Linked DNA regions of Homo sapiens. The protein of the gene in region 3 interacts with the protein of the main gene of each other region in a pairwise test. Each region holds a gene or a part of one and is shown on either strand. Other genes may lie near its edges. The genes, in order: HCK, SLC25A6, MTUS2, ZBTB47, TSHZ3, ITGB4 and ZNF764.

The links.
Region 1: the proteins of MTUS2 (region 3) and HCK interact in binary tests that used the Homo sapiens proteins (3 or more experiments, as listed by UniProt).
Region 2: the proteins of MTUS2 (region 3) and SLC25A6 interact in binary tests that used the Homo sapiens proteins (3 or more experiments, as listed by UniProt).
Region 4: the proteins of MTUS2 (region 3) and ZBTB47 interact in binary tests that used the Homo sapiens proteins (3 or more experiments, as listed by UniProt).
Region 5: the proteins of MTUS2 (region 3) and TSHZ3 interact in binary tests that used the Homo sapiens proteins (3 or more experiments, as listed by UniProt).
Region 6: the proteins of MTUS2 (region 3) and ITGB4 interact in binary tests that used the Homo sapiens proteins (3 or more experiments, as listed by UniProt).
Region 7: the proteins of MTUS2 (region 3) and ZNF764 interact in binary tests that used the Homo sapiens proteins (3 or more experiments, as listed by UniProt).

Annotation. Positions count from the first base shown.
Region 1 is NC_000020.11:32,099,799-32,102,356, reverse strand, and holds the end of HCK (tyrosine-protein kinase HCK), read right to left. Parts: intron 1,041-2,558; coding exon 838-1,040; 3' UTR 501-837; downstream 1-500. UniProt on the Homo sapiens protein: Non-receptor tyrosine-protein kinase found in hematopoietic cells that transmits signals from cell surface receptors and plays an important role in the regulation of innate immune responses, including neutrophil, monocyte, macrophage and mast cell functions, phagocytosis, cell survival and proliferation, cell adhesion and migration.
Region 2 is NC_000023.11:1,385,652-1,389,113, forward strand, and holds the end of SLC25A6 (ADP/ATP translocase 3), read right to left. Parts: intron 1,769-3,462; coding exon 1,628-1,768; intron 1,109-1,627; coding exon 951-1,108; 3' UTR 501-950; downstream 1-500. UniProt on the Homo sapiens protein: ADP:ATP antiporter that mediates import of ADP into the mitochondrial matrix for ATP synthesis, and export of ATP out to fuel the cell.
Region 3 is NC_000013.11:29,022,839-29,026,338, forward strand, and holds part of MTUS2 (microtubule-associated tumor suppressor candidate 2), read left to right. Parts: intron 1-1,618; 5' UTR 1,619-1,830; coding exon of another isoform or gene 1,831-1,860; coding exon 1,861-3,500. UniProt on the Homo sapiens protein: Binds microtubules. Together with MAPRE1 may target the microtubule depolymerase KIF2C to the plus-end of microtubules. May regulate the dynamics of microtubules at their growing distal tip.
Region 4 is NC_000003.12:42,656,697-42,660,196, reverse strand, and holds part of ZBTB47 (zinc finger and BTB domain-containing protein 47), read right to left. Parts: intron 1,923-3,500; coding exon of another isoform or gene 1,842-1,922; coding exon 369-1,841; intron 1-368. UniProt on the Homo sapiens protein: May be involved in transcriptional regulation.
Region 5 is NC_000019.10:31,276,437-31,279,936, forward strand, and holds part of TSHZ3 (teashirt homolog 3), read right to left. Parts: intron 3,317-3,500; coding exon 111-3,316; 3' UTR 1-110. UniProt on the Homo sapiens protein: Transcriptional regulator involved in developmental processes. Functions in association with APBB1, SET and HDAC factors as a transcriptional repressor, that inhibits the expression of CASP4.
Region 6 is NC_000017.11:75,731,459-75,734,958, reverse strand, and holds part of ITGB4 (integrin beta-4 isoform 1 precursor), read right to left. Parts: intron 3,148-3,500; coding exon 2,986-3,147; intron 2,797-2,985; coding exon 2,720-2,796; intron 1,470-2,719; coding exon 1,267-1,469; intron 1-1,266. UniProt on the Homo sapiens protein: Integrin alpha-6/beta-4 is a receptor for laminin. Plays a critical structural role in the hemidesmosome of epithelial cells. Is required for the regulation of keratinocyte polarity and motility.
Region 7 is NC_000016.10:30,555,575-30,559,656, forward strand, and holds the start of ZNF764 (zinc finger protein 764), read right to left. Parts: upstream 2,801-4,082; 5' UTR 2,609-2,800; coding exon 2,413-2,608; intron 2,273-2,412; coding exon 2,159-2,272; intron 537-2,158; coding exon of another isoform or gene 534-536; coding exon 1-533. UniProt on the Homo sapiens protein: Zinc finger protein that functions as a cofactor for steroid hormone receptors, such as NR3C1/GR.

The DNA.
Region 1 (2,558 bases), on a different chromosome or scaffold from region 3:
CACCTCAGTCTCCCAAAATGCTGGAACTATAGGCATGAGCCATTATGCCCGGCCAAGTAATGTTATGCAGTTTTGTTGTCTTAAGCTACCAGATATGTGGTAATTTGTTACAGGAGCAAGAGGAAACTAATATAGCCAGTAACTATTTTAGGGCAGTTAGAAAACCTCAAGCATTGAACCCCAATTTTCTTTCCTTTCCTTTCTTTCTTCTTCTTCATCTTTTTTTTTTTTTTTTAAACAGGGTCTCACTGTGTCGCTCAGGCTAGAGTGCAGTGGCACGATCATAGCTCACTGTGGCCTCGACCTCCTGGGCTCAAGCAATCCCCCGCTCCTCGGTCTCCCAAAGCACTGGTATTATAGGTGGGAGCCACAGCACCCAGTCTGAACCCCACTTGTCTTTGTATTTCTGGTCCCCGGGAGAGTCCTTCACCATTTCTGACTTGTCATACAGCAAGAAGGCAAATAGATATTCAGGAATTGGAAGGACAGGAAAACCAACGTTTTGGTAAAGACTTTGGCATTTATATCTTTTATTTAAATATTCATTTCACTATTTTGAAAGTTTCCCTTCCAAATCACAGCTGTAACTAAAATCCAACCATTCCAGGAAATAGAAATATCAACTTGGGGGCTTCCTGAGAATGTCAGATTGTGGATTGCAAGAGTCAAAAAGAGATTTTCCAGTCCAACCTACCCACTGGACAGATGAGGAAACTGTGGCTGAAGCGAGGGTGGGTGTCTGGGAGTAGGAAGGGGGTGTGGGCCCTGGCGGATGGTGCTGGAGCCACCTTGCAGCCACCACCTGGGCACCCCCTGGCCCTGCCCTGGTCCTCCCTATCATGGCTGCTGTTGGTACTGGCTCTCTGTGGCCGTGTAGAAGTCATCCAGCACACTCTGGATGTATTCGAAGGTCGGCCGCTCCTCCGGACGGTTTTTCCAGCAGCGCATCATGATGTTGTAGAGCTCCTCTGGGCAGTTCTCTGGGCGAGGCATCCGGTATCCACGCTCCAGAGCTCGGATCACTTCAGGGTTTGACATCCCTGAAAAGGAGCCGTGGAATTAGAAACGGAAGCAGTTGGGAAATGAGAGCCCAGGGGTGGCAGGCCCTGTGGCCTCCCCAGCAGGCATCACTCCCCACCTCACCTTGCAAGCTGAGCCCCTTCCACTGTGAAAGACAGACTTCCACCCTCAGCTTCACTTGCAGCTAGGACATGGGCCTGGGACCCAGTTTGGGCCAATGGGAGCTGATGGGGAGGTCTGCTGGGAAAGTGATGGAAAGGTTTTTCCTCCCGCTTAGAGGAGAGTCTTTGGAGAACGCACCCTTCATCTCTTCCTTTGAACACTGTGAGATACTTATGATACTTGGAGCTGACAACATGGAGAAGACCATCATAGAGACAGGAACCCAGAGTCCTGACAGCTGCTGAGTTGCTGAACTAACCAGTCACCAATGGAAGATTGGGAGTAATAGATTGCTTCTATTTCAGTTACTCTTTGTCTGTTATTTTGTTGCTTGCTGTGGAACACATCCTAATGGATTCAGCGTCTATTGTGTGTTGCCTGGTTTTGACTAGTGCACCCTCAAGACAAAACATTCAGGTGGCCAGATTCAATGTTAACCTATGGGTGGGACCATTTTTTTGTTCAGTTCAAGTTTCTATTAGCTATTCATAAGAATAGCCATTCAATGTCTGTGATCCCCAATTTTATATTATTAGTCTCAAACTCCAAACTCATGAACTCAAGTGCTTCCTTTACTTGGATGTCTCTATATTTAAGTCAACTCAAATTTAGCAGAGCTAAAACAGAGCTCTCCAATTTCTATCCCTAGACCATTACCCACCCTGTGGTGCAAAGCCAGGGTAATCATCCTTTATTCTCTCTCTCTCACCTCCTAAGTCAGCAAGTCAGATCTTTTCTCCTTTTGAAACGTAGCACCAGTTCATCAACGTATGCCAGTCACGAATGCCACCACCCTGTCCAGACCATCATCACCTCTGCCTGGGCCACTGCTGTGGCCTCCTCACTGGCTGCCACCCTGTTCCCTTTCCCTCCCATTCACTCTCCATGCTGAAAGCATCGCTTAAAAATGGAAATCACCAGCCCGGCAACATAGCAATACCTTGTCTCTCAAAAAATTTAAAGAATTAGCTGGGCATGGTGGTGTGTGTCTGTAATCCCAGCATTTTGGGAGGCCAAGGCTGGAGGATCGTTTGAGCCTGGAAGTTAGAGACCAGGCTGCACAACGTAGTGAGACCAAGTCTCTACAAAAAAATTAAAAAAATAAAAAATAGCCAGACATGGTGGCATGTGCCTATGGTCCCAGATACTCGGGAGGCTGAAGCGGGAGGATCATTTGAGCCTAGGAAGTCGAGGCTGCCATGAGCTATGATTACACCACTGCACTACAGCCTCAGTGACAGAGTGAGACCTTGTCTTAAAAAAAAAAAAAAAGGTGGAGAAAGGACAAGATCTGATTTAAAGTTTAGAATTATCCTTCTGGCTGCAAGTGGAGAATAGGCTGTAGGACGAGGAGGGAGAAAGCAGTAAGACTGATG
Region 2 (3,462 bases), on a different chromosome or scaffold from region 3:
GTGGGGGTCTTTGGGAGTCATGAGGCCTCATGGATGGGATCAGTGCCCTTACAGAAAGGACTCCAGAGAGCACCCTGGCCTCATCCATCATCTGAGGACACACAGGGAGAAGGCGCCATCTAGAAGCCAGGAACTGGGTACTCACCAGAGACTGAATCTACCATACCTTGGTTTTCTGGGACCTCCAGCCTCCAGAGCTGAGACATGAGATCATACAAATGCTCTCAGAGAGGGTACAGTAAGTGCAGGTGCCCTGGGGTCCTCCAGCATTTATCAGGGAGCCCGGCTACACTTCTGCCAGCCTTGGTTTCTACCCCCCGCCTCTTCCCAGCTGTGACCCTGCCCTCTGTGCCCCAGGGGTGCTGGGGAGGAGGCAGCACTGCAGACCAGGAACGTGGGCCAGCCACGGGCAGAGCGTGGCCCCATCTGCGTCCCGTGGGCCCAGCGCCCATCTCCAGACCCCAGGCCGCCCTGTGGAGAGGTGCGTGGCCAGGCAGGAGGACCTCTGCGTCCTCTGTTTATTGTTTTGCAGCAGGAGGCCCAACATAGAACATACTCGCCAGTACTCGGCTGTGCAAAACAGGGGCTAGCGCTGAAGTACAAATGGGAAAACGTGATTCTTTTGTTTTAAATAAATACTTAGAACACGACTTGGCTCCTACAAGCATCTGGACTCTAGGTCTCAGTACTGGAGTGTCTCACCCATGGGCCCCACGCAGGGACGCCACGGTTCCCTCCCACCCCGTGATCAAGACACGGAATCGGCTGCCGATGGTTGGATCGCAATGCGCCCCTTTTCTAGAGCCTTCCCCGGCCATCTACAGGCAGGATGCGGCTGGGAAAAAGACAACTGGAATTTCTCGAAGGTTGATGGTCCGCACGGTTGAGGATTCTACGTGGTTCTCTTGGTTCCCCTGGTGTGTGTGTGTGTGTGGAGGAGGCCGCGGCCCTTAGATCACCTTCTTGAGCTCGTCGTACAGGACCAGCACGAAGGCGCCCCCCATGCCCCGCAGGACGTTGGACCACGCACCCTTGAAGAAGGCCTTGCCCCCCTCATCTCTGAAGATCTTCCTCCAACAGTCGACGGTGCCCGTGTACATGATGTCAGCTGCAACGACAGGGAGACAGTGAGGGCCTCGCCGCCAAGCTCTTCAAGACACGGACGCCACCTGCACCCACAAAGACGTTTCACAGAAATAACACCCCAGACGCCTGAGCCACAGTTCTGATTACAGGAGGGATACCTGAGGCTCCCCCAGCTCAAGCCCTCCTCCTAAGCCACTGTCTCAGGGAGGGCTGGACACAGGACTTCAGGCCCCGCCCTGGGTGTCCCCCATCTCCACCCCGGGGTCCATGCAGAGAAGGCAGGATCGAGGGTGTGGGTGCAACCAGAGGTTCTAGGAGGCGGGGATTTAGAAACTGCCGCCCGGACCATGAAACCCCAAAAAGATCAGAAGCCCATCGTTCAGGAAAATCCTTCCACACAGCCAGGTTACTTTCGGACACACTTGCTTGTCTCACACGCCCTGGAAGTGCCTCCTTTGATGGTTCCTGACCTCCCACGGGCCTAGGGCAAGGAGCTTGGTTCCCCTTCCCGGCAGCAAGGGTCCCCCGCCCCCCCGAGTACCTCCTTTGCGCCCGGACTGCATCATCATGCGCCGCCGCACCGTGTCGAAGGGGTAGGACACCACGCCGGCCACGGCCGTCACGGTCTGCGCGATCATCCAGCTCACCACGATGTGCGTGTTCTTGGGGTCGGGGAGCATGCCTGCGCGGGAACGGCACGTCACCGTCTCCAGCGCCTGCACGGCCACCCGAGACCAGGGTCGGCCCCCAGGGTGTGCTCACGGCCCCCTGAGGTGGTGCCGAGCTCTTCCGAGACCACCAGTGCCCCCTCCACGTGGCTGCTCAGTGCCAGCTGACGTTTACAACACGAGAGGTCGGGGCAGGGCCAGAGGGGAAAAGGCCGCCTGCCACCTACCGGAGCCCAGCAAGACAGTCCCAGAGGCCGGGGTTAGGCCTGTTTGGGGAAGGGAATAGGGCCCTGACCTTCTGAAGGGTCACCGTTACTATGGGAGTTACACTCTGTCCTCAAAATCCACATGCTGAAGTCCCACCCCCACCCCAGGACCTCAGGATGCAACTGTACTTGGATATAAGGTCTTGAAAGAGGTAAGACTAAAGGAGGCCAGTAGGGTGGGCCCTGATCCTACGACCCCAGTGTCCTTCTAAAAAGAGATGAGGACACAGACACACGGAGGGATGACCCTGTGAGGACACAGGGAGAAGACGGTGTCTACAAGCCAAAAAGAGAGGCCTCAGAAGGAACCAGCCCTGCCCACTCCTTGATGTCAGACTTCCAGCCTCCAGGACTCCGGGAGAATCAATGTCTGCTGTTTATAAGCCACCCAGTCTATAGTATTGTTTTAGGAGCCTGAAATGGACTAAGACACCTCATAAGAAGAGCAGATAAGGACACAGACACACACAGAGGGATGACCCTGTGAGGACACAGGGAGAAGACGGCGTCTACAAGCCCAGGAGAGAGGCCTCAGGAGGAACCAGCCCTGCCCCACACCTTGATCTCAGACTTCCAGACTCCAGGATTATGGAAGAATCAATGTCTGTTGTTTACAGTCCACCCACTCTATGGTATTCTGTGATAGCAGCCTCAAATGGACTAAGACATCTCATCAGAAGAGGACACGAGGACACAGACACACACAGAGGGACGACCCTGTGAGGACACAGGGAAGACGGAGTCTCCAAGCCCAGGAGAGAGGCCTCAGGAGGAACCAGCCCTGCCCACACCTGGATCTCAGACTTCCAGCCTCCAGGACTGTGGGAGAATCAATGTCTGTTGTTTCTAAGTCACCCAGTCTATGGTGTTCTGGGATGGCAGCCTGAAATGGACTAAGACATCTCATAACAAGAGATGAGGACACAGACACACACACAGGAAAAAGCCTGAGAAGACAGCATCTCCAAGCCCAGGAGAGAGGCCTCAGGAGGAACCAGCCCTGCCCATGCCTTGGTCTCAGACCTTCAGCCTGCAGGACTGTGGGAGAATCAATGTCTGCTGTTTACAATCCACCCAGTCTATGGTATTCTGTGATAGCAGCCTGAAATGGATTAAGACATCTCATAACAAGAGGAGATGAGGACACAGACACACACAGAGGGACGACCCCGTGAGGGCACAGGGAGAAGACGGCATCTACAAGCCTAGGAGAGAGGCCGCAGGAGGAACCAGCCCTGCCCACACCTGGATCTCAGACCTCCAGCCTCCAGGACTGTAGGAAAATCAATGTCTGTTGTTTATAGTCACCCAGTCTATGGTATTCTGTGATAGCAGCCTGAAATGGATTAAGACATCCCATAAGAAGAGAGGATGAGGACACAGACACACACAGAGGGATGATGCTGTGAGGGCACAGGGAGAAGACGGCGTCTCCAAGTCCA
Region 3 (3,500 bases):
AGATTTTAAACTCTTTGGGGGCAGAAATAACGCTGATCTTCCTCATCATTCATTTGGACATTTATTCATTCATTTGTGCTGCAAATACATAATACGTGCCTAATATGTATGCCAGGTATTAGACAATATTTATTTTCAGTGTCTAGCAAATCTGAAAGTCTTTTTTTAATTCTTCAAAGTGAAAATACAGGATACTACAAATCCATCATTATAGGATGACCTAGTGAGGAACGCTTCCTGGAGGAAGTGGTAGTTATGTTGCATATTGAAGGATGCAAAGGACTTGTAAGATGAGGTTGGGGGAGGATTCCACATTCCATGCAGATGGAAGAGTATGCGCAAAGGCCCTGAGGCAGAGAGTAATGAACATGGTACTGTGAGGAATGAGGCCAATGTGGCTGCAGCCTGCAGAGCAGAGGGTGAGGTGGGGTTGAGGCCAGAAAGGTGTTCAGGGCCTGATCATGCAGGCCTCGAAGGCCAGAGTAAAGCATTTCCCCCAAGTTTTTATTTTGGAAAATTTCAAACCTATAGAAAAGTTGCAGATGTAATAGAATTATTACCTAGATTTTCAAATGGTTGACTTTTGCCAGTTTCTCTCTTTTACTCTTTCTCCTTCTCATATGCACACACACATACATACACGTTTTTCTTGGTCGAATCATTTGAGAATAAGTTAGAAAAATCATGACATACTACCTCTGAATTCTAAAGCATGTATATTTCAAGAACCAAATTAATCTCTGGCATAATTATAGCACGATTACACACCCAAGAAAATTAATTATAAAATACCTGTACCTTATATACAGTCCATATTTAAATCTCTAATTGTCCTAATAATATCCTTTGCTAACATGTTTTGAAAATCCAGGCTCCGCTGACATTTTTTGGGACCAGTTAGGCCAGTTATTTTGCAATACATACCTCAATTTAAATTTGCCAGATTATTGTCTCATGGTTAAATTCTGGTTGAACATTAACTACTGCATAGGTGATGTGTGGCCCTGAGAACTAACTAATATCAGGAGTCCGTAATGTCAGTTTCATTACTAGTGATGTTAAATTTGATCACGTGGTTAATGTGGTGTCTACCAGATCTCTCCATTGTAAAGATAAAATTTTCGTTTTGTAAGAAATGAAGTAGCCTGGGGGAAGATACTTTAAGCATCTATGAATATCTTGTTCCCCAACAATCTTTTACCCAATGTTTGTACCTTTGGCATCCCTTGTGTAAGATAATTATGAATGTAGCGATTGCAAAATAGTGATTTTTCAAATTCTATAATTTTTTTCTACATTCGTTGATATTCTTCTGTAAAGAAGAGCCCTTACTTCTCCTCCATCCTTTTAAATCAGTATCAGTATAGACTTGTGGATGTTTAAAATTTAGATTTAAGATCTCACATGCATTTATAATCCATTTCTAACATTAAACATTTTGATGTTTAATTTTTGTATTTGGCCAGGAGGAGCCCTGATCAGAAAGGTTTTTTGAGAAAACTATTGATTGAATGAAATAATAATATAGAAATGACAAATAAATCTGTGTTTACCACTTTTTTCTCCTGAGAAGTTCTATTTGTCAATCTAATGTGAATATATTTTTATTTCTCTCTAGGTCTCATGGACTGATTGGCTCTCATTCAGCAGGAACCTAACAGATAAGTCTTCCTGCTGTATATCAAGACAATGCTTGGTTTTCAAGCTGTTCTGAGAATGATTAAAGCAGTGTCGCAAGGTGACATTGTCAGGGGAGAACAAGCAGCTTGAGAATTTCCTCTTAATCTGATTGCAGCTTGAAGGCAGCCCATTTCCATTAAGTAGGACTGCATGGCAAGCAGCCCCACCAAAGGGTTGACAATGAGCGTCCCAGTGGCTCCTAAGAAATCATGTTACACTCAGTTGCGGGACAACAGAAATGCAGCAAGAAATAATAATGAAAGCATCTTAAGTCTGGGAGATACGAATGCCAATCAAATCATGTTGGAGGTCAGCTCCTCTCATGACGAGTCCAAGACATGTGACCTGGGAGATGAAATTGGAAATACAAATTCAAGTGAGCCAGAAAACCGTACCCATTTCCATAAGGAATTTCACCAACTTCAGGGCTTTGGGAAAGGCTCTCAGGCTGGCTCTGCCAGCCTGAAAGATTTTAGACTTTCTTCAACCATTCAGAGGGAACTCAATGAAGAGCACACAGTGGAGAGAGGCACAGATAGCCTGCAGACCACGCGGAGTATTCAGGGACCAAGTCTGTCGAGTTGGAGGAATGTGATGAGTGAGGCCAGTCTAGACGTTTTGGCTAAAAGGGATGCTGAAATTCCCCGGCATGTTCCCAAGGATAAACTGGCAAAGACCCTTGACAATGAGGAACTGAGGAGGCATTCTTTGGAAAGAGCAAGCAGCTCTGTAGCTGCAGTCGGGAGCCTGACTCCGCAGCATCCACAGCCTCTATCCCTCGACTCCCGGGAAGCACGGGGTCAGATACCTGGGGGTGGGGAGGGGCCACAGAAGACATTGCCAGACCACGCTGTCCCGGCAGCTTTCCCTGCAACTGACAGTACCTCAGAGGGAAAGAGTGTGCGTCATCCTAAACCATCTACCTCAGAAAGCAAGCAGAGCACTCCCTCAGAGACCCAAACAGTGGGGGCACATGTACTGCAGGTGTGCAGTGAGCACACATCACATTCCGCCCATCCAGAGCCTGCTCTGAATTTGACTTTGGCATCGAAGGAAATCCCAAGTAAACTGGAAGCACAATTAGGTCAGGGAAAGGGAGAGGCCAAGCTGGATCTGAAATATGTTCCTCCCAGGAGAGTTGAACAGGAGGGAAAGGCAGCCCAGGAAGGGTATCTGGGATGCCACAAGGAAGAGAATCTGTCAGCCTTGGAGGGAAGGGATCCATGTGGGGAAGCACACCCGGAAGCCACCGATGCACTTGGCCATCTGCTGAACAGTGACCTCCACCACCTTGGGGTGGGAAGAGGCAACTGTGAAGAGAAGAGAGGAGTCAACCCAGGGGAGCAGGATTCTCTCCACACCACCCCCAAACAGGGCTCTGCTTCCTTAGGAGGGGCTGATAATCAGCCCACTGGCAAAATTTCACCATGTGCAGGTGAGAAGTTGGGTGAAAGGACATCCAGCAGCTTTTCACCAGGTGACAGTCATGTGGCTTTTATTCCTAATAATCTGACTGACAGCAAGCCCTTGGATGTCATTGAGGAGGAAAGGCGGTTGGGCAGTGGGAATAAGGACAGTGTTATGGTTTTGGTGTTCAATCCTTCTGTTGGAGAGAACAAGACGGAGGTGCCTGAGCCCCTGGACCCTCAAAGTGGCCGCTCAGAAGCACGGGAAAGCAAAGAGGTCACCACATCTGTTGCTGAAAACAGGAACCTTCTAGAGAATGCAGATAAGATTGAAAGCACCTCAGCAAGAGCAGATTCAGTTCTCAATATTCCAGCACCCCTCCACCCAGAGACAACTGTGAACATGACCTACCA
Region 4 (3,500 bases), on a different chromosome or scaffold from region 3:
CTGACTCATCCCACCCAGAGTGGCCTGTCTTCTGGCCTTGTCTGCTCAGACAACTCTCCACTCTCATCCTCCCAAGTCCATGTGTCCCCTTTGTCCCTCTGGCCAAGGGTACTGTTTGTTCCAATCCTCTGCACATCTCTTCATGCGCCCAACTCTATCCACCTCTCCCAGGAAGCTCGGCTTGATGTTACCCCTGAGCTCTAACCACCCTGAGAACTGGGCCTGGGCCAGCCTGTCTGGGGGCTAAGTCTGGTCTCCGCAGACCACCTAGGTAATGCAGTCAGCAAGACACTAGGTGCCCAGAGCCCAGTTATGGCCTAGCCCCACCTGGACAGCCTCTGCCCTGCCCCCAGCCACGTGAGGCCCACCTGGATGTTGCGCTCGCAGTCTGTCTGCCTGTGCAGCAGCAGCTCGCTCTCCAGCAGGAAGCGCTTGCCGCACTGGTCGCAGATCTGCATGCGGCTGTGGGTCACATTCATGTGTTTCTCCAGGTACCAGCGGTTGTTGAAAACTCGTGGGCACTTCTGGCATGGATGGTGCTGCTTCTCCTCCAGCTTCACCTTGGCCCCCAGCCCATCAGTGGCTGGCGGCCCTCGGGCCGATGCAGAGGCCACTCCAGGGGGTGGCTTTGGCCTCTTCCCACCCCGCCGCCCAGCTTCTTCAGGTTCAGGGGTACCCCGGCGCCGGGCGTTCTCCCGGGACCGTGTGGCCATGTGACTGTGGGGAGGGGGGTCTGCCCGGCTGCTTCGGCTTCCCCGTGGCCCCTGCTTGCCCCCAGCCTCCCCCTCCTCCCCCTCCTCCTCCTCAGAGCTCTCTTGATCCTGCTCACTAGGCCCTTCCTCCTCTTCCTCCTCCTCTTCCTCTTCCTGCTCACTGTGCCCGTCCTCCTCCTCTTCTTCCTCTTCTCCCTGACTGCCACCCTCTTCCTCCTCCTCCTCCTCCCGTCCACTGCCACCACCTTCCTCTTCCTCTTCTTCCTCCTCCTCCTCCTCGTCGTCCTCCTCCTCCTCGTCCGAGTGTCTCTGCAGCCCGTCCTCCCGGCCCAGAACCACGGTGGCTGGGCTTGGCCCGGCACCTGGCTTCCCCTCTGGCCCCGTGGACACGTGCAGTGTCTGGTTGTTGAGGTTCACCTCCACGATGATCTGGGATTGCTCCCTGCGGCTGTAGGTGCCAGAACCCCCAAGCTCTTCCTCCAACTCTTCTCCACCCTCCAGCTTGCACAAGCTGGCTGGGGGCCCACCGGCCTCCTCGACACCACCCTCCTTCTCCTCCTTAAAGAAGGGCTGGGCTGGCCCAATGGTGGCAGGCACTGTGCCACCAGCAGTCCCTGCCCCGTCCTCAACACGCACCGAGTAAGGGTCAGGGCCCTCGCGGGCATAGATCTTGGGCAGGCCTGGGGTGTCGGCCTCCTGCTTGATGTCACAGTAGTAGGGCGGCGCAGCTGGAGTGCAGCTGGCAGCCGGCTGGGCCAGGGCCACAGTGCCCGGACCTGGTGGGCCTAGAGAGCGGGCGTCCAGCAGCTCTTGGCAGGACGCAGCGATGTCAGCCATCTGCAGCAATGAGGCGGCGCTGAGCACCTCGTGGACGTTGGCCGCGTTGACCAGCAGCTTGGACGTATAGATGAAGTTGAGGATCTGCTGCAGGCCACCAGGTGCCAGTGCCTCCAGGGACAGCTCCACACGCTGCAGCTGCTTGTTCTGGGTGAAGAGTGAGTGGAAGAACTGGCTGTAGGCGGCTAGCACACCCTTGTGTGCCGGAAAGACGCTGCGCTGGGGCACCAGCACCAAGTCCACGTCGCAGAGGTCAGGCTGGAAGAGGCGCTGCTCGTTCAGGCGGCCCATCAAGCAGGCAAAGTGCAGCGCCACGTCCTCCACCAGCGAGAACTCAGCCGCCGGGGAGTCAGTTGTCTTCTCAACCAGCAACTGCGGGGACAGAGGGCACAGGAGTGGGTCAAGGCCAGTGGGCCCCTGCCCGCCCTTCCCCCAGCACCACTCCCAGCATTGCCAGCCATCCAGGAGGCAGCCCATCACTCGTGGCTCCACTTTACAGCAACAGAGCCGAAACTAGCAAGGAAGGGATTCAAGCCTGAGTGAGCTGCCTCAGAGCTCAGGCTCCACTCGTGACCCTCTGAGGCTGAAGATCAGGTCCTGTCACTTTCTGGGCCTCTGGGTCATCTCCTGGGAAATGGGAAAAGTCATCCCAGGAAGGGAAAGGGAAGGAAAGGGGATGAAAGAGAGACCACAGTGACCAACCATCCAGGTTTGCCAGGGACCTGGGCATTTTCTGGGGTGCAGGGCTTTCAGTGCTAGAACCAGGACCATCGCAGGCACACCGGGACCAGGTGGTCACCCCAGGAGGGCCACAGGCATTCCTTCAGCATTTCCTCAGCCCCGTGGATTCTCTCCACATATTCACTCACACATACCAATAAAAGCAAGCTTGCCCAGCCCCAAACACCTCAAGAACAGAAGCCGGGCTCACTGCTCACTGCCCAGTCTCTGGCTACAGAATCCAAGGGGTAGCACCTGAGGGAACCCCTCATCGCAACAGCCATGTGGCTGCTGCAGAAGTTGAAACCTGTGAAGAAATCCAGGCTCAGGGCCTATACCTTCTCCCCACTCTGGTCCTGCTGCACTGCCTGGTGAGGTCTCCTCATCACAGCCAGGGCTTGGGCCAGGCTGCCCCCAACCCCTGCCTGCAGCCTCAGGCCTAGCCCCCAGCAGCTCTCTCTCACTCAGGGGCTCTGCAGGGGTGGAAGGACACAGCTGTGGAACCTGCCTACCATGCTTGCAGGCAGGAGGCCCCCAAGGCCTGCCCCAGATCCTTTTCCCGGTAGACCCCCAGACCCCAGGTCAGGTACGGTCCATGTCCACAGGCTCTGGGAAAGCCCTGCCTTAGAGGCCACACCATCTGGGGCTTCCAGAGCCCTAGCGGAGGCCCTCAATGTCTGATGGGTCAGACTATCAGGCCTGTGGGCCACATCCAGCACCTGTGAATTGCCTGGAATAGAAGCCAACTCAGTCACCCCGGCTCTACCACAGCAGCCTCCCCAAAAGGTGGGCAGCACAGACAGGCAGCCTGCCCAGTCCCTGCACGAGAACCATCACACAGTGATGTGCAGATGTTGTTAATATCCACCAACCACCAGCCCAGCTGGACCAGCACCACTGGTTCCAAGTTCTGGCTCTCCTCAGGGCCTGCCCAACCAGGTCTGAGCCTCCTGCATTCGGGAGGTACCTTGCCACAATATTTTGATGGCCACAAAACCATCAGCTCCATAGCTGTCAGTGCCTCCCTGGGGACCCTGGGATGAATCCTGGCCCCATCCATCCACAGCCTACCGCCCCCCTTCCCCATGCCAGGCCTTCCATCGCCAGGAGAGCAGTGGGTAGGCTGGGATTGGGCAGGGGTGGTGGTGGTTGAGCTCCACTTCTCAGTCACCTGAATGAGAAACCTACCGTGGGCCTCAGCAGGAGCCTCCCTGAGCCACCAGGGGCCAC
Region 5 (3,500 bases), on a different chromosome or scaffold from region 3:
GCAGTTAAAATAAGAACATGTGCCAAGAACAACAAGTCAGAGGGGGCCTGAAGGTGCCTTCCACAGTTTCCCTCAAAGCAAACTGCAGTCCTTTCTATCAAAAGCAAATGCTACTGCTTCTCTAACTCAGAGACATACAGAAGGTGGTCTTCCGGAGATTTCCCGTGTGTTTTGCTAAGGTGAAGTTTAACAGCGTGCTTGCTGGCAAAGGTCCGATTGCAAAGTTTGCACTGATAGGAAGTCCCCAGGTCTTCCTCGGGGGAGGACGTCACCATTTTTTCTGACGGTGACTTGGTTTGTGCTATCTGACTGTTAATCTGTTCGGTGGACAGTTTGGATAAGTCCCGTAGCCGGAAGCCTAAGTGTGACTCTAGGTGACTGATGTACGTGGAAGGAGTCCTGATTTGGGACGCACAATCGTTACAAAAGAAGACGGGGTGGCCAGTGTCCAAGTTTTTGAGGAACTTTGTTCCACCTGTCCTTCGAAGCTGGTATTTCACGTTGGCCAGCCAGTGGCTGATGGTGGTCATGGACAGCCCGGTGAACCTGGAGATATGCATCCGCTCCTGGGGGCTCAGGTCTGACATGATGTACTTCCCTTCTGAGGTCTGCCGGAGGCTGGCGGCAAACTGGGCCTGGAGGATCAGGAGGTGCTGGGGGTTCCAGTTTGACTGGCGGCCCTTCCTCTTCTGGGCGGGCGTCGACTCCTCAGCCTCCTCCAGAGTGGCCCCGTCAATGTCAGACTTCTCGGAGATGCTGGAAGGAGTGGAGGATTTTGACGTGTGGCTCTCTGTCAAGTTCTTCAGCATATCGGATATATCTGACAAGGCATTCTCGCGTAGCGGCGAGTTTGACATGAATGATACGACGGCAGATGTCTTTGCCGTTGTCACCGTGGATGAGGAGGTTGCCGGGGCTGTGGACGTGGGTGACAGAAGCACTGAACCCAAGGAGCAGCCTTTGTCACTCTTCCCTTTTGTCAAGTCTATGGGCTGGTCGTTGTTGACGTGGTAGAAATAGCGGTCGAGGTGGTCTGCCTTCTTGGACTGCAGGGGCGGCGGGGTGGCCACAGCAGCCTTCTCCGCCAGGCTGTTGCTCATCTTGAAAAGCATGCTCATGGGGTCCAGGGCAGGCAGGGAGGGCTTGGCGGCCTTGCCCAGGTGAATGTTCATGACTGACTGCAGGGCGCTCAAAGGGTTAACAAAAGGCTGTTCAGGCGGGTGGTCGGTGATGATGGCCGTGCTGCCACTCAAACTGCTGGCTAGGGGCTTCACCAGCTCCTTGCCATTCTCCACCGGCTCAGCGAGGGGGCTCCCATCCTTGCACCCATCCCGCGGGGGGCTGGGGCTGTTCTCCTGGCTGCGGAAGCCCCCATCGCTGGATGCCTCCATCTTGATGGGTTCCCCGACTTCGCTGCTACATGGGGAGGGAGTGGCCCGCTTGGGCGGGGAAAGCTTCCCATCCGGCTCCTTCATCTTCTCCTCCACTTTGGCAACTTTCTCAGTGACCTTTTTCACCAGCTCCTCCATGGCATGAAAGTTTGTCTTGGGCATGGGGGACGTCTGGCTGCTGGGTGGAGAGACCAGGGTCTGGTTTTTCGTCGGGGAGACAATCTCACTGTTGCCAAACATGGGTTTCAGGGGCGTGCTCTTCCCCGACGAGCCCAGGGACAACTTCATCATGTTGGGAAGTTGGTAGGCGGCATGGATGCTGGGATAGCCCCCCCAGCTAGGAGTGCCGTTCTGGGCCTTGTTGATTGCGGATGTCACTGTGTTTTCCAAGGATTTGAGGATATCAAGCCCCCCCTTGGGACTCTCTTCTAAGTCATTTTCAGTCAAGTAATGGTATTTGGAAGAGATGTCACACTTCTCCTCTTCTTCGCCAGGCTTGTCTTTTTGCTTAGGTTTCTCGTCAGTGACCGCTTTCTCCTTGTCGACTTCCTTCTTGACCTCCACATTCAGTTTTGGGGAGATGCTGGCAGGTGTATTGGAGGGGGACGTGAAGGTGGTGGCTGCCAGGGGCACGGACTGGACCTTCTCATCCAGCAGGGTTGTGATGGTAGGTGTGACAGGCGTCTCCACAATGGGCTTCCCCTTTTTCATAGCAGAGTTGGTGACCTTGATGAAGTGGCCAGTGACCATCATGTGGGCAGTGAGCTCCTGCAGGGTGTCATGCGAGCTCCCACACTCCATGCACTTCAGGATCTGCGACTTCCGGGCCTCAAAGTGCCATGCATAGCTGGCCCCATTCTGGTGGCCGTACCGATTATTTGGCGTGATGTAAGGGTTGGAGTTCTTCTGAAGTGCATCGTTGGTGTCTGAGATGGTGGCTTTGGGGGTTCCACCTGTGGAATCTGGGGAGCTGGGGAGCTCCAGCTCCAGGGAAGCTTTCTTCCGAGTGGCAGGGATGATTTTGGCGGCGACAGGAGTGACGGGTTCCTTCAGAGGCACTTTTTGGTAGTGTTTTGTTTTGATCATATGGACACTCAAATCCTGCAGGGACTCAAAGGAGTGGCCACAGTACATGCACTTCAGCACCTTCTGGGCGTCTTCCTTCCCTTCCATTTCCAGCAAGGAGCGTTTGCGAGGCTTGGACCAGCGCTTGGGGTTGTTGTTATCGGTCTCATGGTTGTCGTCGCGGTAATGCCCCGTCTCGTTCATGTGCACCGTCAACTCCACCAGGGTGTCGTAGGCAGCGCTGCAGTCCTTACAGCGGAACTTGCTGGCCCCCGTGAAGATGGAGCCATAGAGCTTGCTGCTCTGCCGGTACAGCTGCACGGTGCTGAAGAGGCTGGGCTCCGGGAGCATGCGGCTCTGTGACACCTGCTGCAGCGTCTTAGCCATGGCGCTCTGGTGCCAGTCGAAGCTCCCGCTGCCACAGCTGCTGCTGCTGCTACTGCTGCTGCTGCTGCTGCCGTTGTTCTTCTCCGAGGAGGGCTGGTGCAGGTTGAGGTTGAGGTTGGACCAGTAGGAGTTGGAGAGGAAGTTGTTGTACACGGCCTTCATCTGCTCCAGGCTATCCGACACAGTCGTGTCTTCCAGTGGGACCGTGACCTCCTTGGTCTCCTCTTCGTTCTTGATGGAGCCGCTTTCAAAGTCAGCCATTCGGTCACTGGTCTCACTGATGTGTGACTCGCTGTCCATTTCATGGCAGGAAAACTCGGCGGCCGGGGAGTTCTGGTAGCTGGGGCAGGCCCTGGCGAGCTCCTTCTCCGGGCACATGTACTTGGCCGAGGGCTCTCCATCTGCCGTATGCTCCTCTGGGTCTAAACCTTCGTCCACCAGGGCAGCAGCCTTTAACTCTTCGGAAACATAGGCTGCCATGATAACAGGTGGGAAAGAGAGACAGGTAGGATGGAATGAAGAGAGACAGGGAGAAGGAGAGAAAGAAAAAAAAAAGCATTAGTACTTGTTGATCTTACCTAGAATATGTTCTGGGCTCTCAGGAAAACACAGCAACCCAGATGGGTACATGTATTTGTAAAATTAAACAGTTAAAAT
Region 6 (3,500 bases), on a different chromosome or scaffold from region 3:
AAATAGTTAGAAAATGAAAGTAAAACCTCCAGTGACCCCCTTTTGTCCAAAGGATGAAGTCCTGCTCTGGACTAGAACCGAAGCCCTTTGTACTCTGGCCCTGCCTCCTTCCCCAGAGGCACCTTCCTCCCTTCCTCTCTCATACCTCCCTCTGTGCCACTTGTCTGCCTTTCTCCAGTGGTGCCCAGTTCTCTCTTCTGTTTCTCTGAGCACACTCAGGGACAGACAGTCGAAGAGAAGAAATGGTGAACAAAAGCAAGAACAGAAGAAAGAGTAGAAAAGCAGGGGCTTGGAAAGTATACAGTGAGGGCTTCATAAGTATTTGATGAGTAGATTTTCATTCATCCTCCTCCATTCAACTACCAATCCTTCCCTATGTCCCCTTGTCTGAGTTCTGTGATCCTGCCCAGCTCTGATGTTCCTGGCCAGACTGTATGCCTATGGCCTGGACCCATGGGAATACAGAGGAAGCTCCAGGCCTTCCAGGTAGAAATTTAGCATCTTTGGGCCGGGCTCAGTGGCTCACACCTGTAATCCCAGGTGTGATTACAGATGTGTACTTTGGGAGGCTGAGGCGGGCAGATCACCTGAGGTCAGGAGTTCGAGACCAGCCTGGCCAACATGGTGAAACCCTGTCTCTACTAAAAATACAAAATTAGCTGGGCATGGTGGTGCATGCCTATAGTCCCACCTACTAGGGAGGCTGAGGCAGGAGAATCGCCTGAACCCAGGAGGCAGAGGTTGCAGTGAGCCAAGATTGTGCTATTGCACTCCAGCCTGGGCGACAAGAGTGAAACTCTGTCTCAAAAAAAAAAAAAAAAAAAAAAAAAACAGCAGCAACAACAACAAAAAACCCACAGAAATTTAGCATCTTTGGAGAGAGGAAAGATCATAATGCCATATACCTGCCAGCCATTGGAGGGCTGAGCTGGGTGGCACCCACTCTAATGAGATAGGGGTGTGGAGAAGTGGGGTGGGCATAGAACTGAACTTCCAGAGAGAACCTCAGGGGAGTTGGAATCTTAAAACCAGGGGAAAGTCCTGCCAACAGTGACCTTGGGCATGGACGTTACAGATGAGGGAAGTCAGGCCCAGGTTGGGGCAGGACTCAGGGGCGGCCCTCAGGGCATCCAGAGTGGGCTGGGCCTGAACTTGGGGATTCTGATTCCAAGTCTGGCTCTCCCAACCTGGGTCCTGACGGGAAAGTCATGCTTGCTGTCCACTCCCTACCCCGCCATCAGCATTGGCCGCAGTTGTTGTGCTCACCATTGCAGAGGAACCCGGAAGTGCGGGGACACTGGAAGTTGTCATACTCGCAGAACTGACCCTCGTAGCGGCCTTCGCCGTAGCACACACAGTGCCCGCACTGGCACTCCCCACGGCCGGAGCACGGCTTGTCCTCGCCCTCCCGCAGGCAGGGCTGAATGTCACTCAGAGAGCCGGTGGAGCAGTTGCAGGTCTGGCCACTCCTGAAGGAGGAACTGGTCATTCCCCGAAACAGCCCAGGAGGAAAGCTGGGGCTTTTGCTGTCCCATTTAATTTAATTTAATTTAATTATTTTATTTTTTTTTTTGAGACGGAGTCTCGCCTTGTCGCCCAGGCTGGAGTGCAGTGGCGCGATCTTGGCTCACTGCAAGCTCTGCCTCTTGGGTTCACGCCATTCTCCTGCCTCAGCCTCCTGAGTAGCTGGGACTACAGGCACCCGCCACTACGCCCGGCTAATTTTTTGTATTTTTAGTAGACGGGGTTTCACCATGTTAGCCAGGATGGTCTCGATCTCCTGACCTTGTGATCCGCCCACCTCGGCCTCCCAAAGTGCTGAAATTACAGGCGTAAGCCACCGCGCCTGGCCTATTTTATTTTATTTTTTTTCAAGACAGAGTTTCGCTCTTCTTGCCCAGGCTGGAGTGCAGTGGCGCGATCTCAGCTCACGGCAACCTCCGCCTTCTAGGTGCAAGCAATTCTGCCTCAGCCTCCCGAGTAGCTGGGATTACAGGCATGCACCACCACGCCCAGCTACTTTTTTGTATTTTTAGTAGAGATGGGATTTCACCATGTTGGCCAGGCTGGTCTTGAACTCCTGACCTCAGGTGATCCACCCACCTCGGCCTCCCAAAGTGCTGGGATTACAGGTGTGAGCCACCTCGCCTGGCCTGCTGTCCCATTTTACAGATGAGGAAACTGAGGCTCTGAGAGGGCCGAGGCAGCTCCCAGTCATGCAGACAGAAGTGGCTGAGCTGAGACCTAAACCCCAGTGCCCTGTCATGTCACCCCTTCCAGTGTCCTTTCCCCACTGCTCTGCCTCAAGTTGTGGCAAGCTCGCCCAGTGTCCTGAAGCTAAAGCCCTTACTGCCGTGCATTTACGAGCTCTCTTCTGATCAGGCAATATGACACAGGACTCAGAATACCAAAGGCATGGAGCAAAAAGGAAGCCTCGTGTGCCTGTCCCCCAAGATCCAGACCCCAGCCCCAACAGCCAACCCCGTCTCAATCCTCACACCTCTTTCTAGAGACAGCCCATATATCTCTGTATTTCAAAGTGCTTTGACCTGGGTTTGACCAACAACTGGGTGTGCCCCGCCCTTAGCCGTTTCTTTGATTGCCGCCCCACCCCCAGCCAGGTGTACAAGGTGCACCCAGGGCCAGGCCCCTGCAGGAGCCCAGCTTTCCCATCAGGGGCCACTGGTGTCCTGGGTGCCCAACTCCCTTCCCCACTCACCAGCCCTCGCTGCACACACACTGTCCGCACACGAAGTCTCCGTTGAAGCTGCAGCGAGCTGACCGCACCTCTTTTTGCTGGAATGAGAGAGACCATGGTGGGGTGCGTCGGGGGAGCAGGACCGGGGCCACTGGACACTTCCGCTCTCCTGTGTGCCTCGGGAAACCCCACAAGGGATATGGGGCACAGGAGTCCTGCTTCATTCCTCAGGGTCCCTGGGTGCTTGGCTCAGCTCTCCCCTCCCGCCCTGCGGGGCTGCGTTGTACCAGCTCGCAGGTGCACACATCACAGATGATGCCCGCGTCCATCTTGAGGCCGTCGGAGAAGGAAGGTTTCAGATGGATGTTGCCCTTCTGGTCCTCCGGCAGCTGGCACACGTGCGTCCCATCCACGTGCTCAAGGGCCCGCAGCTGCACCTGGTATATACCCTGCAGGGGCCCCGTGGTCAGCCAAGGCAGGCCCAGCCCCAAGGACCAGGGGGCCATCGATGCCTGAAGGCCCTCGGCCCCCAAGTTCCTAGGAGATGTCTGGATCCCTGAAATGAGCTCCTGCTCACCTCCCTCAGGGCTGGAAACTCCCTCCTTCCCAGCGCAGTCACAATCATAGCGACAATGACAGTGGCCAGGGCCTCTGGGCTTCGTGACACTAACCCATTTACTGCCCCAGCAAGCCTCCGGGCTCGACGCTTGCATGCCGAGGAAACCAACAAGCAGAGGAGCAACCTAGGCTCATCCGAGCGGCTAGGCCCAGGGATCTGCACCCAGGCCTGCCTGACTCCAGG
Region 7 (4,082 bases), on a different chromosome or scaffold from region 3:
GCTGTGCACGCGCCGGTGCTGGTAGAGGGCAGAGCTCTGGCTGAAGCGGCGGCCACAGTCGGCGCAGCCATAGGGTTTCTCGCCGGTGTGGACGCGCAGGTGCGAAGTCAGCGCCGAGCGCTGCGTGAAGGCCCGGCCACACTCCAGACAGCGGTGGGGCCGCTCCCCACGATGGATGGCCCGGTGTTTGCTCAGGGAGGAAGCGTGGCCGAAGCCCTTGCCGCAGTCAGTGCAGTGGAAGGGCTTCTCGCCAGTGTGACTGTAGACGTGCTCCACCAGTGTGGAGCGCCAGGCAAAGCTCTTCCCGCACACGTAGCAGCCATGACGCTGGTCAGCTCGGGGGACAGGGGGGTGGGCACAGAGGGAGGGGCGTCCCCGGTGCGGTGCCTTGGACAGCTGCTCCCAACCATAAGGGGGCCCGGCCGAGGGGGCTTGGGGAGACTTCAGCCCAGGAGACCCGGCGGCCACAGGGTCGGGCTTCTCCAGGGCTCCCGTCCCTTCCCTTTGTCTTTCCTTTTTCTTGTTTCTGGAATCTGCTGAGAGATAAAGAGGGGAGAGTTCAGGCTCGGCTCATCCTGGTCCTTGAATCCCACAGCCCGCGTGGACAGGGACAGGCCTGCTGGATCCCCGGCTGCTCCTGGGAGATGGAGGAGTGACACCTGTTCCTCGGCTGCAGAGCCAGACAGAGCCGGGAGGGAGAGAACAGCCCATTCCGCCTCGGGGCTGGGGAAATGTCACGGTGGGGGAAGGGCAGAGATGACATGAACATCTGGGCCTGATCCAGAAGGAGGAACGGACACCTGAGGATGTTCCAGGCAGCAGGAACAGCACCAAGAAAGGCAGAACCAGGAGGGCATGGCCAAGTTCAGTGGGGCTGGATACTCTGCAAAGGCTGAGGGCAAGAAATGAAAGAAAAAAAGGGGGGCGGACGGGGAGAAAGGAACCAGCCTGCAGGTGAACGGCAGGGGTGGGTCCTGAGGTGGAGGTAGAGTCAACAGAGTTTAAGAGACTGGGCGTGGGGGCTCAAGGCGGTAATCCCAGCGCTTTGGGAGGTAGAGAAGGAGGATCAGCCTAGGATTTCAGGACCAGCCTGGGCAACACACCGAGAGCCAAGACCCCCTCTATAAAATATATATATTACATAACAATTTAAAACAATTAGGCCAGACGCAGTGGGTCACTTTGGAAGGCCGAAGCAGGCGAATCGCTTAGCTCCAGGAGTTAAAGACCAGCCTGGGCGACATAGTGAAACCCTGTCTCTACTAAAAATACAAAAAATTGGCTGGGCGCGGTGGCTCACGCCTGTAATCCCAGCACTTTGGGAGGCCGAGGCGGGCAGATCACAAAGTCAGAAGTTCGAGACCAGCCTGGCTAACATGGTGAAACCCCATCTCTACTAAAAACACAAAAACAAAATTAGCCGGGCGTGGTGGCGGGCGCCTGTAGTCCCAGCTACTGGGGAGGCTGAGGCGGGAGAATGGCGTCAACCAGGGAGGCGGAGCTTGCACTGAGCCGAGATGGCGCCACTGCACTCCAGCCTGCGCGACAGAGGAAGACTCTGTCTCAAAAAAAAAAAAAAAAATTAAGCAGGCTTGGTGGCGGGCGCCTGTAATCCCAGCTACTTGGGAGGTTGATACAGGAGAATTACTTGAACCTGGGAGTGGGAGGTTGCAGTGAACTGAGATGGCACCACTGCACTCCAGCCTGGGCAACGGAGTAAAACTCTGTCTAAAAAAAAAAATTACCCAGGCTTCGTGGCGAGCACCTGTACAGTCTTAGCTACTCTGGAGGCCCAGGTGGAAGGACTGCTTAAGCCCGGGAGTTCCAGGCTACAGTGAGCTATGATGCCGCCACTGCACTCAGCCTAGACAACAAAGCGAGACCCTGTCTCTAAAACAAAAACACCAAAAAAAGCCCCCAGAGTGTAGTGACCACGCAGAGGTGAGGACTCAGAGGCGGGTATGGCAGGGCCAGAGCCCCCATCACAGCTCCTTTCTAGGCTGCATCTGGGAGCCACGCAGGGGCTCAGCCTCGTCGTCGCAGTTGAGAAGGCAGTTCAGAGAGGAAACTGCTAAGCAGGTAGCTGGAGGTGGCAGAGGGTACCGGGATGGGACAGGAACAGAGAAGTCCCCATGGGACTGAGCACCCGATACTCCACCTGGGTCCGTTTGTGTCTGACATTTCGCCACCTCCGGATCCTGGGCAGCCGGACCCCACAGTTCGGCCTCCTCCTCCACCCAGGAGATGAGAGCTGGCTTGTTGCCTCCGATTCCTAGGGAAGAAGAACGCAAACCCCACGCTGCGGGGAGGCCACCTGCCCGGCCCCGGGGCCCCCAACTTCACGCGCAGCTCCCAGAGGCGCGGCAGGGCCTGTGGGGGCGCAGGGCTCAGGCGAGCAGGTGGGGCTCTCACCGAGAGCGCTCAGGTGGCCGTAGGTCTCCCGCATCACGTCCCGGTACAGGGCCCTCTGCGCTGGCCGCAAGCAGCCCCACTCCTCCCGGCAGAAGTACACGGCCACGTCCGCGAAGCTCACAGCCCCCGGCTCCCTCCACTCGGGTCCGGCCCCGTTTGGGTCCCGGGGAGGGAGCGGGGCCAGAGGCGGCGCCATGGTAACTGTCAACCCCGACGACGGATCGGCTGCCTCCCCTGGCCTGGCCTGGGCCTGCGGAACCTCCTGCGCCCGAGAAAGCCTCCCCGGCCCGGGCCCAAGGGAAGGAGGGAGGTTACTAGGGCCCCCGAGGGCGCACTAGAGGGCGTGGAAACTAACGGTGCCGATGGCAGCGGGTGTATAATCAGAAATGGAATATGCCCTCATAAAAAATGGCGGCGGCGCGGGTACTCGACCTTTGCCCCTACGCAGTCGTGCCCAAGACAACGCCCCCGGTATCTCCAGTCCGCGTTCTCTCCGTACCCTCATCCAAAATGGCCGCGGTGACTAATACAGAGGCCGGCCTTGAAAACTAGCCGCGCATGTTTAGTCCCCGGCCCGGCGAGGCGGTGCAGCAGAGAGCTCCGCCCCGGCCCGGCGAGGCGGTGCAGCAGAGAGCTCCGCCCCGGTTTGCACGAACAAAAGAGCGCCTCGCGGGAGTGAGCTGGCCTCCCGGCCTTACTGAACTCAGGCATTAGTTTTCGTTTGTGGACCGTTTTATAATCGGGCTCCAGCTCATCACTCTCTCGTTTTGTCCTTGTTATCTCAGAAACAGGGCAACAGCAGTCTCTTCCCAATGTTGAGTGTAAAAAAACCAATGGAGTGGGCGTGGCGCAGTGGCTCACGCTTGTAATCAGCAGTTTGGGAGGCCGAGGCCAGCGGAACAACTGAGGTCAGAAGTTCGAGACCAGCCTCACCAACATGGTGAAACCCCGTCTCCACTAAAAACACACAAAAAAACAGCCAGGTGTGGTGGCGTGCACCTGTAATCCCAGCTACTGGGGAGGCTGAGGCAGGAGTATCGCTTGAACGCGCGAGGCGGAGTTTGCAGTGAGCCGAGATTGCCTCACCGCACTCCAGCCTGGGCGACAGAGCGAAACTCTGTCTCAAAAATAAAAAAGAAAGAAAGAAAGAAAAAGGAGTGGATACAGGAGAACCTCCTCCATCGTAGGCTTGTTGGGGCCTGAAATTCTGGAAGTTTCTAGATGGCGGAGGCAGTGGGGAGAGTAGGGTAAGGTTGAGAAAGTCAGAGGGTCCTCTCTTCTAGGAGCTTCTCCCATGTGCTGCTCAGGACGCCTCCCAATTGCCAGTCTCCCTGTAGCTGCAGCCGGGCTCTCACCTCCCCTCACATCCTGCCCCTGGACAGATGGCCCAAGGCTCCTCTACTCAAATCCAACTCATCCCTTTCTTGCCCCAATCTGCTTCCCCTAGGGTCTTTATCTAGTAAATGTCACCAACTCTCCCCCAGACCTCTCTCTCACTTTCTGATGGTCTATTCTGTGCTCCACGTGACTTCATACATGTCCTGTTGTAGCAGGACAAGCCACAGACAAAACCCCTCAGACACCGAGTTGAAGGAAGGGTTTTATTCGGCTGGGAGCATCGGCAAGACTCACATCTCAAAAACCGACTCCCCGAGTGAGCAATCCCTGTC